Linked DNA regions of Homo sapiens. The protein of the gene in region 2 interacts with the protein of the main gene of each other region in a biochemical or structural test. Each region holds a gene or a part of one and is shown on either strand. Other genes may lie near its edges.

What was found. The genes of interacting proteins can lie anywhere in the genome.
Region 1: the proteins of ERCC6 (region 2) and MRPL13 form a complex in vitro, tested with the Homo sapiens proteins (one large-scale study listed by BioGRID).
Region 3: the proteins of ERCC6 (region 2) and SF3B3 form a complex in vitro, tested with the Homo sapiens proteins (one large-scale study listed by BioGRID).
Region 4: the proteins of ERCC6 (region 2) and ZBTB38 form a complex in vitro, tested with the Homo sapiens proteins (one large-scale study listed by BioGRID).

What each region holds. Positions count from the first base shown.
Region 1 is NC_000008.11:120,431,651-120,435,150, reverse strand, and holds part of MRPL13 (large ribosomal subunit protein uL13m), read left to right. Parts: intron 1-3,027; coding exon 3,028-3,121; intron 3,122-3,500.
Region 2 is NC_000010.11:49,529,122-49,532,621, forward strand, and holds part of ERCC6 (DNA excision repair protein ERCC-6), read right to left. Parts: coding exon 3,422-3,500; intron 1,720-3,421; coding exon 1,599-1,719; intron 1-1,598. UniProt on the Homo sapiens protein: Involved in repair of DNA damage following UV irradiation, acting either in the absence of ERCC6 or synergistically with ERCC6. Involved in the regulation of gene expression.
Region 3 is NC_000016.10:70,565,316-70,568,815, forward strand, and holds part of SF3B3 (splicing factor 3B subunit 3), read left to right. Parts: intron 1-52; coding exon 53-209; intron 210-2,095; coding exon 2,096-2,221; intron 2,222-2,967; coding exon 2,968-3,180; intron 3,181-3,500. UniProt on the Homo sapiens protein: Component of the 17S U2 SnRNP complex of the spliceosome, a large ribonucleoprotein complex that removes introns from transcribed pre-mRNAs.
Region 4 is NC_000003.12:141,445,004-141,448,503, forward strand, and holds part of ZBTB38 (zinc finger and BTB domain-containing protein 38), read left to right. Parts: coding exon 1-973; 3' UTR 974-3,500. UniProt on the Homo sapiens protein: Transcriptional regulator with bimodal DNA-binding specificity. Binds with a higher affinity to methylated CpG dinucleotides in the consensus sequence 5'-CGCG-3' but can also bind to E-box elements (5'-CACGTG-3').

The DNA.
Region 1 (3,500 bases), on a different chromosome or scaffold from region 2:
GTAAGTATGTAATACATAGCAAGTGGATTTGTTCATCAATGGAAAAGGATTATAAAGCAAATTTTAAAAGAGCTGGAGACTCTCAGCAAGCTGAATTGGTGTCTCTATCTGAATCTGCCCTTGCATGGAATCTGAGTATCTCAAACATAGTTAAAAATGAACACTAGGGATTTTTGTAAACACTTATTGTGTCTGATAACTCTATGTGAGGGATCTATAATTAAGAGTCTGCAGCAAGGATCTAGGACCAAAAAAATTATACAAATGCTAGAACAAAGTAGAGTTTGCCATTTCAGTGGCAAAAACTGCAAATAGTTTTGCACCAACCTAAATAGCATGGCTTACCTGGCCCAGACAGTAGTGTTGGAAAAACTGGTAAATAAGGCTACAAAAAGTTATCCTATACTCTAGGTCTCCTTGAATCCCTAATCAAGGAGCTGGTACATGGGGAAGTACAAAGATGGCAAATAACTGTAACCTGTGAGCAGTTTGCTGAGAAGGACTTCTGAGATCTTAGAATTTAGCAGAAAAGAATACGTGATCAATTAGTGAATGATATCATTGTCTCCTTATGGCATTTTAACTACCACTTTTTGCCATCTGGTTGTGGTAGAAATGGTAAGATCTGCCTTTGAAGTTTTACTGGAGTTGTATTTGAAACTTAACTTTACCACTTATTAGCCATATAATTTTAGCTGAGTTGAACCTCTGACTCTGTTTTCTCCGTAAACATTATTAAATAGTAAAAGTGGTAGCAGGCAGAGGGAGTACGTTAGCTTTACCTAATAAGATAGTTGTGAGACTTTAAGTGTTAAAAGTGAGTATAAAATGCCTAGCTCAGTGCTTTGCATGTAGAAGATGTTGAATAATTATTACTTCCTTTCCTCCCAGGCAATTTTGAGGAAAAATTATGACTTCATTCTGGCTTAAGGGAGAAGGTGGGCCAAAACATTGAGGCGGTGTAGGACTAAGAGCTGCCCCTGATGGTGTAACCTATCTGAGACCTTAGGTTTCCTGACATGAAGCTGTTGAGTTTTCACTTTGTCTGAATTAGTTTGAATTTATTTGGCCATTTAATTGAGCACCTAGTATTATACTGAGGAGTCAGATAAAGTTAGAAGTTTAAGGTTAGAATTTTTGTAAATAAACTCACAATTCCTATTTCTAAAAATTGCTTACTATTTTTCAACTTAATTTCTCTTCAGAACATCTCTTGATCAAGCACTAGAGCTATGATTTATTTACATTTGGTACATATATATTAAATGTGCAGTTTTAAATTAAAAATTATAAAATGAAACTATATGTATTTAACTTAATAGAAATTTAGACAGAAACAACTGTGCTATATCCAGGGTTACAGTCTTACAGTAATACTGACTTTAGTGTTAATGAAATACAGTTAAAAGCATGTATTTAATTGCTGGTTAGTTTTTGTTTAGAGTTAGTAGAGAAATGCTTCTTAGAATGAATTTACTAGAGATTTGGCATATATTATTGAGGAAGAACAATTTTTCCCAGATTAGATGTGATACCTTAGAACTGAAAGAATATGATTTTCAGTTGCTTTGTGGCAATCTGTCTAATGCCCCTTGGAAGATCTTTTTTGCTCTCTGTAGATATTTTTTGAGTGGCTCGAGATGCTTTACCTATATTTAAAACTTAACAATTTAAAAATAAATTCAGTTTTAATGGAAAGTTTAAAGATTCCATTTTTTCCTCCAAATAGATGTTATGGAAAGAGCCTACACCGGGTGTTAGGTAACTTAGCGTGTGAGCCTCTGCAAATCACTTAATCTTCTTCTGCTGTAAATGTCTGAATGTGAGCTAAAGTAATTTCAGTGTTTTTTGAGGTTGTCTGGTTATCTTCCCACCTTCTTTATTTGCTGTTCTGCTGCATTCGCCCAACTGCCTCAGTAGCCAACAGGGTGTCACTTTTAGGAACTTCAACCATTTAATTAAACATTGTCAGACTATTCTTTTCCATCTAATAACAGCAAGCTTCCCAGGTCTTTCATTCATACCTCTGAATTTCCTTTCACTCTAGTGATGAAAACCCACTTGCATTATCTTCTTTTCTTTATTCTTATCCTATATAGACTATGAACGTCTGTGAAAATTCTGCCACTCAAATTTAGGGCTCTGCATAGAATCTTATAATCTTTAGTTTTCATATATATTGTACTTGTATTTCTTATTTTTAGTACTTTTTTCTTGAGCTTCTAGAATATCTTGGTTTGTTTTTTCTATTAGTAAAATAGGTATTTTATAAATGTTTCTAATTACTTGATTTTGTTATGTATAGTCAGTTATTTGAAAATGTACATGTTAACTTTTTAGTTTGTTTTTAGATGAACAGCCAAACTTAGGGATAGAAAATGAAGCAGATACACATATTTTGATTTTCAGGTCATCTGTCCTGTCAAATATATTTACGTAGTCATAGTTGAGAGTAGCAGTTTAAATTTACTATAAACATGGTTGGAAAGAAACCTTTCCATGGTAGTTAATAAGATCAAAGCAGTCTGTTCCCTAAATTTGCAAAAAATAATAATTGTAATGTTTTACATATGTTTTCAATTTACCTGTAGGTAAAACATACTTTTTTATATCTATATACATACTGTTTTCATTTTCTTGGCTATTTTTCAGGGAAATTTTGTATCAGACATTTAAAGGCACTTAATACAAACATTTTTACTGAAGTGTAATTATTAATGGGAAAAGTCACAAGAATAACAGTAATTTGCCTTTAAAAGATGTATTGTTGTTATTGGCAACCTTATTAAATTTCTTTTACTTTGCAGTGTTGAGATTTTCCAAATGGCCAGCCAACTCTTTCTATACTTAGATGTTATATTAAAAAGTAACAGAAATCTATTCAAGGATTTTTGATGTTGCACTGTAACTTGCTTTTTATTTTTTAATATGTTGTTTGAACTTTGATAAGCTTTATAAATAACCAAGGCCACTTTTTCTTAAGGTTTTTATTTTTCTTACAAAATCTTGTTTCTTTTTAAAATGTAGGTGACTGTGGGGATCATGTTGTTATAATGAACACAAGACACATTGCATTTTCTGGAAACAAATGGGAACAAAAAGTATACTCTTCGCATACTGGGTAAGATAATGCTGTTGTCAGGGAAATTAGGTAGTTAAAATATATTACTTTAAGAATACAGTTGTTCTTACTTAAAAGAAAAAAGATATTTTTAAAAATCAGCATTTATTACTAATTTTACTCATGCCATGTATATAATTTACTCAATTTTTAAAAACCACACAACTATACCAAATATAGCTATTACCTGACAGTATTTGTTTATCCTACAAGTGTTTCATATAACCTGTGGACAAGATTATTCTCATGTTTTAGTCACTCTTTTACTTTGTATTTCTGCTTCCTGTAATTCATCTTACTGCTGTTTTCAGAACCATCCCAAACCATCTGAAAGTTAACAAGATGTTTAAGGAATGGTCACTCTTCTCTAGATAAAATC
Region 2 (3,500 bases):
CAGAACTCAGATATGTGCCCTTGGGCTTCACTGGGGAGGCCCAATGAACTGGGCTTGTGGTACCTGGTTCATCTTTCCAAGGTCAAGAATGTTTCAACTTCAAATACGAGTGTGGGACAAGGGGAAATCCTGAACATAAATGCCACACTGCAATGACTTGCAATTTGTTTTTTCTCAGTTTTTCTCTCAGCAACATTCTGTCTAAAGCACTTTCCCTCTGAATAGTCTACCTCTAACCATCAAAGAGCTGCTAAAGACAAGAATGCATAATTAAGTTAGACTAGGACCTGAAGTGGTCTCAAGTTTGATGCTCTACACCCTTGAAATTCCAGCCCACTAGAAGCCCAAGAAGGTCTCTGCACATCAATTTCACATGCTCCCACAAGAGACCAGATGTCCTCTCTCTGATTTGGGAGGACCCACCTGCCTTGGGCAACTGCTAGCTTTGACCTTTGGGCTGCTATTCTGGAAGCAAGTGAGAGAAGATGGGGTAGTGCAGGTAACAGACTGGTGAGTGGAAAGTATAATAAAAGGAGGGCCACGTGAACTGAACCAACGCACAGCCCTGCCCCTGGAGAGCTTAAAGAAAAGATGCAAGGACTCTACTCACTGCAGTGAATCAACTGTAAGCACAAGTTGGGATGGCAGAACTGAAATGGTTACAGCTAGTCATTCCTATCTATTGCAATGTATTTTCACAAAGGGGTACATAAATCATAAAAAATGTTTCAGACCTCACAAAGCTGTACATAAATCCTTAAAAAAAGTTTCAAACTTCATAAAAATAATATCCTAAGTAACAAATATTCCCTACCCTTAAGTTTTCCAAAGCTAAGTACAACCCCAGTGTGGCTGGGTGCTGACTGTAACACCCAAGGTGGGAGGAAGGGCCAAGCTCTCGCAACTGTCAGCAAAGGTGTGTGAGGGTCAATGGCTGCACCACCAAGAAACAGAGTGGAGACAATTAGAGGAAGCAAGGGCTAAGCAGAAAAGAGTTCACAGGAGACCAGGAGACTGAGGCCAGTGTGACCCTAAGCCAGGCCAAAGAAATGGTGATGCAGGAAAACTAAGGAAGTGCGCCCAAGTGAGGCAAGCAACACCAAAAAGGAACTTTTCTCAAATACACAGATGGTCTCCAACTTATCATGGTCTGACTTGCAATTTTTCAACTTTGTGATGGGTTTATCAGGGCATAACCCCATTATAAACTGAGGAGCCTCTGGACTTAACTATGGTTTGACTTACAATATTTTGACTTTAAGATAGGTTTTTCAGTGTATTTAATGCATTTTTGACTAACAATATTTTCAATTTACGATGGGTTTGTCGGGATGTAACCCTGTTGTAAATCAAGGAGCAACTGTATACGTATGGATGTGTGTGTCTATGTATGTGTGTTTTTTTAAATGCAATAGAATGGGATGTTAAAGGAAAACAGCAGAAAGATTAAACATACAAAAGAAACCCAAAATTTCTCTATTGTAATTATAAGTATTTGCTTCACATCTTATAAGCACTTTTTAAAATACTTCCTAAATTAAGTGCCCCTAAATGATGACTTTTTCAAAAATGCAATACTGAATGTTATTCTGAATCACCTTATTATACTTCTGTCGTTTTACAGAATCTAGTTTCCTGTTGATGTCTCTGCTGGTGGCAGCTTGAGGGCTAAGCTGTTCAATAATTTTATTGATTTGCCTTAGGGATGTCGTACATGACCTGAAAAATAAGATAAATTGTCTATTTTGCACTCTGATAACATTTTTATAGCATAATATAAAGAGAAAAATGCTAAAAACATGTCCCTTTTACTTCTTATTAACTAAAAGATAAAGGAAACTAAACCAGAATACATACCCTTATTGGCCACAAATAAAACTTGTAGGATCATTAGAGGTTTAAGATGACTGCTAGTGTTTTCTTTTATCTAGCTGATTTAGATCAGCTCATTCCCATTTGTAAGCTGCTTCAGTCATTCTACAAGCATTATTTAAGTGCCTACTTTATTCAACACACTATGCTAGAACAATGTGCAATAAGTTGTCCTTTTACATGAAAAAATGCATACATGGGTTTTTTAAGCCCGTTACGGAAGCCTTCCAAAGTCTGGAAGCATCCTAAATATGCTTAAACATTTTTTTATATAAATCACACATCTGCGACAATATTTTTCTTCTACATAAATGGAAGATTCACTTACTACAGCACTAAACTTTGTGGTGCAAAGAAAACAAATCAATTTAAAATAAATTACTCCTAAAATAGACACCATAGAATTGTAGCTTCCAATTTTCAAAACACAAATTCAATCTTCTTGATGATTGTGTAATTTGCTGTTTGTATCCTCTGTGGATTACAGGATAAACAATGCGTATTACTGGCTGAGACACCACATGCCACCAGCCATCTAGCATCACTCTGCATGGAGACCCCACAACTCTCCTCTGTCACCTCTGGAGAAAGAGGACACATTTCCAAGATCAAATGTAAAAGTATCATTACAAAGAGTTGAGGTCCTCAACACTCAGACTATAACCATGAACGAGCACCTGCTCCTGAGGAGGCCAAAAGAACACACCAGGGAATGGTTAGCAGAAAACATGTCTTTGAAGTACCAACAACCACATTCATGACAGCGCCACACTCCACCCTCCCCAGCTATCCTCTGTGACACTGCTCCATCCTCCATCCCGTTCAGCCCTCGCCTTCTTTCTTGCTTACCTGACACTGCCCAGAACACTGCCCAACGGGGGCCAAGCAGCAATGATAAGTGAGCTCAACCCCTCCCACTTCCCCTCTCCTGTCCTCACCTCCTACCCTTGCTCAGGTCTACAGCCTCCCCTTCTTCCCCATTAACGTGCTATGCTCAAAACAGCTCAAGTCTTCTCCCTCTCTAAGACACAAATAAAATCTCCATTTCCAGAGTCAGAACAAGGATGGAAGAAAAGAAAACCGGGGAGTCTTTATTATTTCTAAAAATGCAAATCTGAAAAATTGCCCAAGGACTGAACACTAAGTTTGGGGACAGTAAGCTAGAAAGAAGCTACCGCACAGAGAAAAATGTGAAGGGGGCGCAATGTATTCCTGGCATCTCGAATAGGAAACACCTGAATTTAGGTGCACCTCTCCTGAGATCACTTTGTGCACATGCTGGTGAACAGCCCTTCTCTTCTGGACATTATGCATGCAACTGGCTTTCACGAGCTGGACAGAGACTCTAACTACCATGTACAATGCCACTCCTAAGGGGAAGGGCTGGGACTCAAAGATGAGGTTGAGGACTGCCCTTATTGACTCTGTCCTCCAAATAAAAGGTTCTACACATCTCCTAAACTTCTGGAATACTAGAGCTTTCCATTACCTGAATATCCCTGTCATGTTTTACCACCACTTTGAAAGGAAGAAGATGGGCTGCACTCACGTGAGGTCATCCAGGACCGACCGATACTCCTTCTCCACGTCAACGAGCTGGGAGGCACGGCTGGCCTCATGGATGGCAT
Region 3 (3,500 bases), on a different chromosome or scaffold from region 2:
GCTCTCTGAGTTTTGACTAAGGCCTTACTCTTGCTTCTTATTCTGTGTGTAGTGTGGCTGTGTGCAGGTTTTCCAACACTGGTGAAGACTGGTATGTGCTGGTGGGTGTGGCCAAGGACCTGATACTAAACCCCCGATCTGTGGCAGGGGGCTTCGTCTATACTTACAAGCTTGTGAACAATGGGGAAAAACTGGAGTTTTTGCACAAGGTAGGAATCTGCCAGTGGTTCTCCTAGATTTTAAGTCCCATTGAATTCTCTCACTTTTGCTTATGTTATGGATCAGGTCTTTTGGGGACCAGCTCCTTGATTCCAATCTCTCTCTTACCAGCACATGGAAAATGCTGGGGCCTTCTAGCTGCAGTGATGTTCTTGTGCCTGTGCATTCCACAGGAAGGCTTTGTGCTAACCATCCATAATGGGGAGATAGATGCACATTCAATTGGTCTCTTTCTTACTGTTTTAATAAGCAGGCAACAATTTGTGACCAAAATTCAGCAGTTTAAATAATTAATATTCTGGCTGGGCGCAGTGGCTCATGCCTGTAATCCCAGCACTTTGGGAGGCCGAGGCAGGCAGATCACCTGAGGTCAGGAGTTCGAGACCAGCCCGGCCAACATGGTGAAAGCCTGTCTCTACTAAAAATACAAAAATCAGCCAGGCATGGCGGCACGCACCTGTAATCCCAGCTGCTCGGGAGGCTAAGACAGGAGAATCGCTTGAACCCGGGAGGCGGAGGTTGCAGTGAGCCGAGATTGCGCCATTGCACTCTAGCCTGGGTGACAAGAGTGAGACTGTCAAAAAAAAAAAAAAGATTTAATATTCTTTTCCACCTGCATTCTCTGGGAAGTTACTGTTTAATGGGTACAGAGTTTCAGTTTGGGAAGATGAAAAAAATTCTGGAGGTGATAGTTACACAACAGTAAATGTGCTTAATGCCACTGAAGTGTATACTTAAAAATGACTGGCTGGGCATGGTGTCTCACGCCTGTAATCCCAGCACTTTGGAAGGCCGAGGTGGGCGGGTCACCTGAGCTCAGGAGTTCAAAACCAGTCTGGTCAACGTGGTGAAATCCCATCTCTATTAAAAATAAAAAATCAGCCAAGCATGGTGGTGGGCGCCTGTAACCCTAGCTATTCCAGAGGCTAAGGCAGGAGAATCACTTGAACCCAGGAGGCAGAGGTTGCAGTGAGCCGAGATTGCGCCACTGCACTCCAGCGTGGGTGACAGAGCGAGACTCTGTCTCAAAAAAAAGAAAAGGATTAAGATGGTAAACTTTATGTTATGACTATTTTACCATAATTTTTAAAATAAAAAGAATATTCTCTTCTCCACAATGACAGCATGTGGATTCCTTCAACCCTACCATAAGGGGAGTATCCTCTAAGAAATACTTCATAGACCCTTTTGCATATTAAATTTGTCTCTCCTTTACAACTGAGATGTCACTAGGCTGGGTGCAGTGGCTCACGCTTGTAATCCCAGCATTTTGGGAGTCTGAGTCGAGCAGGTCACTTGAGCCCAAGAGTTTGAGACCAGCCTGGGCAATGTGGTGAAACTCAGTTTCTACGAAAAATACAGATAATTAGTCAGGCTTGATGGCACATGCCTGTAGTCCCAGCTACTCGGGAGTCTGAGGTGGGAGGATCACCTGAGCCCAGGAAGTCCAGGCTATAGTGAGCCATGATTGCGCCTGCCACAGCCCTTCAGCCTGAGCAGTAGTGAGACCCTGTCTCAAAAAAAAAAAAAAAAGTCACTTTTCACTAGCATTTCTTTCCTGTCCCTCCACAAATTACAGTCACTTGGCTACTAAGGCTTCACTGTTGAAATAACACCAGTTAAACAGAGCACAAGCTCTGGACAGCAGTCGTCTGGTACCAGAACTTCTTGTCAGTTACAGCATTGATCCCTCTACTGAGTGAATGCAGCATGCGGAACTTGTTCACCCCAACACCCAGATTCATTAGCAAAATAAGCTCACTGGTGTGTTTCTTAATGATAGGCTCCTGTGGAAGTAGGCATTTCTGGGCAGAGAGGTGAGGCCTGTGTCTGGCTGGCATTTATAATAGCTGTATTACCTGCTTTTCCTCTATAGACTCCTGTGGAAGAGGTCCCTGCTGCTATTGCCCCATTCCAGGGGAGGGTGTTGATTGGTGTGGGGAAGCTGTTGCGTGTCTATGACCTGGGAAAGAAGAAGTTACTCCGAAAATGTGAGAATAAGGTAAGTGTGCTGGCATTGGTGCTGAGATCTAGCTCATGTGTCAAGGGTGGGGGCATTGGTGGGGTGGTGGGCATTGAGTTTTAAAATCTTATCTTTATTAGGACTTGTTGTGTTACCCCAATTCCAGCTTCAGAATTATGCCCTTGTTTTTTTGTTTTTTGGTTTTTGAGACGGAGTCTCGCCCTGTTGCCCAGGCTGGAGTGCAGTGGCGCAATCTCGGCTCACTGCAACCTCCGCCTCCTGGGTTCAAGCGATTCTCCTGCCTCAGCCTCCCAAGTAGCTGGGATTACAGATGCGCGCCACCACGCCTGGCAAATTTTTTGTATCTTTAGTAGAGACAGGGTTTTACCATGTTGGCCAGGCTAGTCTCTTAACTCCTGATCTCATGATCTACCCGCCTTAGCCTCCCAAAGTCCTGGGTTTACAGGCGTGAGCCACCGCACCGGCCCTTGAGTTTTGAGAGGAGCAGGAGTAGAGGGATCTCATTTCTTGACTTACCAAACAAGAACCAGCTTTCTATCTTGCTAGCTTCTATAAGGAAAGTAAATGTGAGAGTTAGGCATATATTTGCACTATATTAAAAGCTATTTGGCTCTTTTTTCCCACCTAGAATTCATTGCTAACTGCTGGTTTTTGGTATTTGCTGTTCTGCTGACCCTACGTATGTCATACGGAAAGCTGGGCTTTCTTTGGGTTCTGAACCCCAAGATTACACCCACCATCACTATTGTCTTTGTTTTTCCCAGCATATTGCCAATTATATCTCTGGGATCCAGACTATCGGACATAGGGTAATTGTATCTGATGTCCAAGAAAGTTTCATCTGGGTTCGCTACAAGCGTAATGAAAACCAGCTTATCATCTTTGCTGATGATACCTACCCCCGATGGGTCACTACAGCCAGCCTCCTGGACTATGACACTGTGGCTGGGGCAGACAAGTTTGGCAACATATGTGTGGTGAGTTGATGTTGTTAACTTGGGTTACAGTGATGTGTAGGAAAGCTGGCTCAGTTTCTTGTGGGTAAAGCCAAGGAGGAATCAAATCTGAGAAGTAAAAATGGATATAAAATTCCATCCTACTAAAGCTAACTCTACAAGCAATCTGTTCTTTAAGCCTTCTTACTAGTCTTTTGGATTTTTCTCTGTGGTTTATCTCCCTCCTCCCTATTGAACGTGATTTAATGATAGGTTTAGTTTGAGCTAATGGCTAATATTTCTTTTTACATTTTATAAGAACTTTGGAATGTCTGTTATCTATGTTGTGTGGTTTTGGTTTT
Region 4 (3,500 bases), on a different chromosome or scaffold from region 2:
GGAGCCTTTGCCACAGGGGAATGACCCAGAACCCAGTGGAGACAGCCCACTCGGGCTTTGCCAATCCGAGTGCATGGAGATGAGTGAAGTGTTCGATGACGCAAGTGACCAGGATTCCACTGACAAACCGTGGCGCCCTTACTACAACTACAAACCCAAAAAGAAATCCAGACAGTTGAAAAAAATGAGGAAAGTCAACTGGAGGAAGGAGCACGGAAACAGGAGCCCGAGCCATAAATGTAAATACCCAGCAGAACTGGATTGCGCCGTGGGGAAGGCTCCTCAGGATAAACCCTTTGAGGAAGAAGAAACTAAAGAGATGCCCAAGCTGCAGTGTGAACTCTGTGATGGAGACAAAGCAGTGGGGGCTGGAAACCAAGGAAGGCCCCACCGACATCTTACTTCTCGGCCATATGCCTGCGAGCTCTGCGCCAAGCAGTTCCAGAGCCCTTCCACACTCAAAATGCACATGAGATGTCACACCGGGGAGAAGCCATACCAGTGCAAGACCTGCGGACGGTGCTTTTCGGTGCAAGGAAACTTACAGAAACATGAACGCATCCACCTGGGCTTGAAGGAGTTCGTCTGTCAGTATTGCAACAAGGCATTCACCTTGAATGAGACCCTCAAAATCCATGAAAGAATCCATACTGGAGAAAAGCGTTACCACTGTCAGTTCTGCTTTCAGAGATTTTTGTATCTCTCCACCAAAAGGAATCACGAGCAGAGGCATATTCGGGAGCATAATGGGAAGGGCTATGCCTGCTTCCAGTGCCCCAAAATTTGCAAAACAGCTGCTGCCCTTGGAATGCACCAAAAGAAACACTTATTCAAAAGCCCAAGTCAGCAGGAGAAAATAGGTGACGTGTGCCACGAAAACTCAAATCCCTTGGAGAATCAACATTTCATTGGTTCAGAAGACAATGACCAAAAGGATAACATACAAACCGGTGTGGAAAATGTTGTCCTTTGAGTGGCAAGAATTAGAAAAATCTTCAAAAATATAGTTGGTGGTTTTTTTAGTTATGATTTAAGTTTAGTTTCATTTTGTCCATGTGACAGTCATGAAGGAGTGAAATTAAAAAAAAAAAAAACTCATTTGTGAAAATTCCAGAAAAAGGATCCTAATATCTACTTTGGGTTTTAGCATTAACTTTATGCAAAGTGCACAAAAACAAAATAGCTGACTCCTCCAATATCCCAAGTTTCTTGTGAAAGTTAATAAAATTCTTAGCTGTGGTATTTCTACCAGTGAAAAAAGGAGTTTAATTTTAGCCTAGTTTAAAACTTTCTAATAATTGCTAATAAGAACTGGCTGCTGAACTGTCTTTAGTCACTGGAGAAAATAAGGGTCAGATATCCTGAAGATGGCATCTTCGTAAATATGTTACGTGGTAATAAGCTGTGTGACGGTCTTTATTCCCATCTGGCTTCTGCACTATTAAAATTTGTTTAAATTAATGGATACACATGAAATACTTAAACAATATAACTGAAATTATGTGCATAATGAGTAACCTAAAGTAGGACATTCATACATTATGTAGAACTACTTTTCTGCAACACAAACCTTGTAAAATACATATATAAATCACTATAACTTTTAACTGTCCATATCCCCTGTAGAGAATTATGAGGAGCAATAGATCTGCAAATAATGAGGACTGATGTAAAAATCAATAGAAAGCATTTTGAATATGATTTAAGAGCATGTGAATGCTTTTAGATGGAATGCTGTTCCCTTGAAGTTATGGCTGAGCTGTTCTTAGAACTGGTCTACTCAATTCACAGAAAACATAGGTCATGCCTTATCTATGGGGGAACACCCTCCCAGAATTTACCTGTGATTACCTGTGCTGCATATTACTTTGCAATGGCCTCATCTCAGAGAATGAAAGAGGGTCACATTGTTCTGAAACTCTCTGCAGTCTTCCAACCACCACAAGGCCATGGATGTGGGGGTCTATTCCAGACAGACTTAAGGGCTCAAGTGGAACCTGCCATCTCCCATTCCACTGAAGGACTGTCCAAGAGATTTAGTGCAAGGTACACTGCAGTAGTGAATTCCCAGGCACTTGAAAGTGACTGCCTAATCCCTACAATTACTAGCCTTGTTGGAGATTATGCAGCCCACAAGTACAGACTAGTATAAAGCAAAAGGACAAAGGAACCCCCACCCTCCACCCCACCCATTAATGACTTGAGTGGGCAAGAAGAAGTGATGGCCTTCCTTGCCTAAAACAGTAGCTTTGTTTTTAGGGGGTGGGAAGGTAGGATGTGGAGTGACATGGTTCTATCCTTTACTTATGAGACTCAGAAATATATCTACAAAGCCAGATGCTCTGTCTTCATATTTGCAGACATCTAGACCCCTTGCTAAAAACCCACTGAAGTTTTTTTTTTATGTTCTTTGACCCACACCATCAACACTACCCTCAAATCTAATTGCCCTACAGCATATTCTATCATGTGGACTAGGTTCCTGGAAAGCCGGAACTCATGATTCTTTTTCAAACTGCCAGAATAGAAGGGAGAGAGAAAACATTTCTACCCTTTGATCACCAGTGTGAACAGAATCCGGAATGCAGTTTCAGCGTGACCTGCAGTCATTCATGTTCATTGGATTTGACAGATGGAAACCCAAGGTTATCGAAGATTGGAAGGTTATCATTGTGAAGAAGTAGCTCAAAGGACTCCGGTTTCTGTCTACAAGTGTGATGTCTCCATGAAGAAGACTTAGTATGGATTTGGGTGGGTAAGAAAGCATTTAAACGCCCAGGAAAGGACATGATTAAAGTTGACCTTTTAATACTGTAGTACCTTGCTGTTAAGTAACCCCACTATTGTATCTGCATTTATCTTTTGTTCATCTACTTTCACTTACATACAGTATTATATAAGTAGAGAAAAATGGGAAAATGCAAGCAAATTCAACTTTATTTTATACATTGTATATATGTACACCCTACACTATTCATTTGGGTTTTATTAAAGAGATAGTCACAAAGGGCTTACGAAAATCATTTTTGAATTGATAATTAGAATATTGAATAAGCAATCCTATGATCCACTAATTTGTTTTATCAGTTAATAATATTAATCAAAGACATTTACTGTATATTCTAGTCATTTTGATTTGAGTTAACCCCAAATATAAAATTACCTGTAGTGATGTCTCTCTCCCAGCCCTTATATGTGGATATTTTTTAAGTGGACTTGTATGCTGATAATTCTAGACCAAAGTAAATATGGCAGAATATTTATACATGAAAAAATAATTTTGCAAATATTTTCTATAATTGTATTCATTTAAAATGTTGATAGCTTGTGTTAGTTTCAGGGAGGGGTGTATATTTTGATAAAAAAATACTTGACTTTGTAATTCTGTATATTCTATACAATTTATAGCAGAGCCGTTTTAAGACAGCCTTGTCACATTTTTTTGTTAATTGTGAAAATTTTATTGAGTGATGTTTAAGTATGCATTGAGTACATGACCA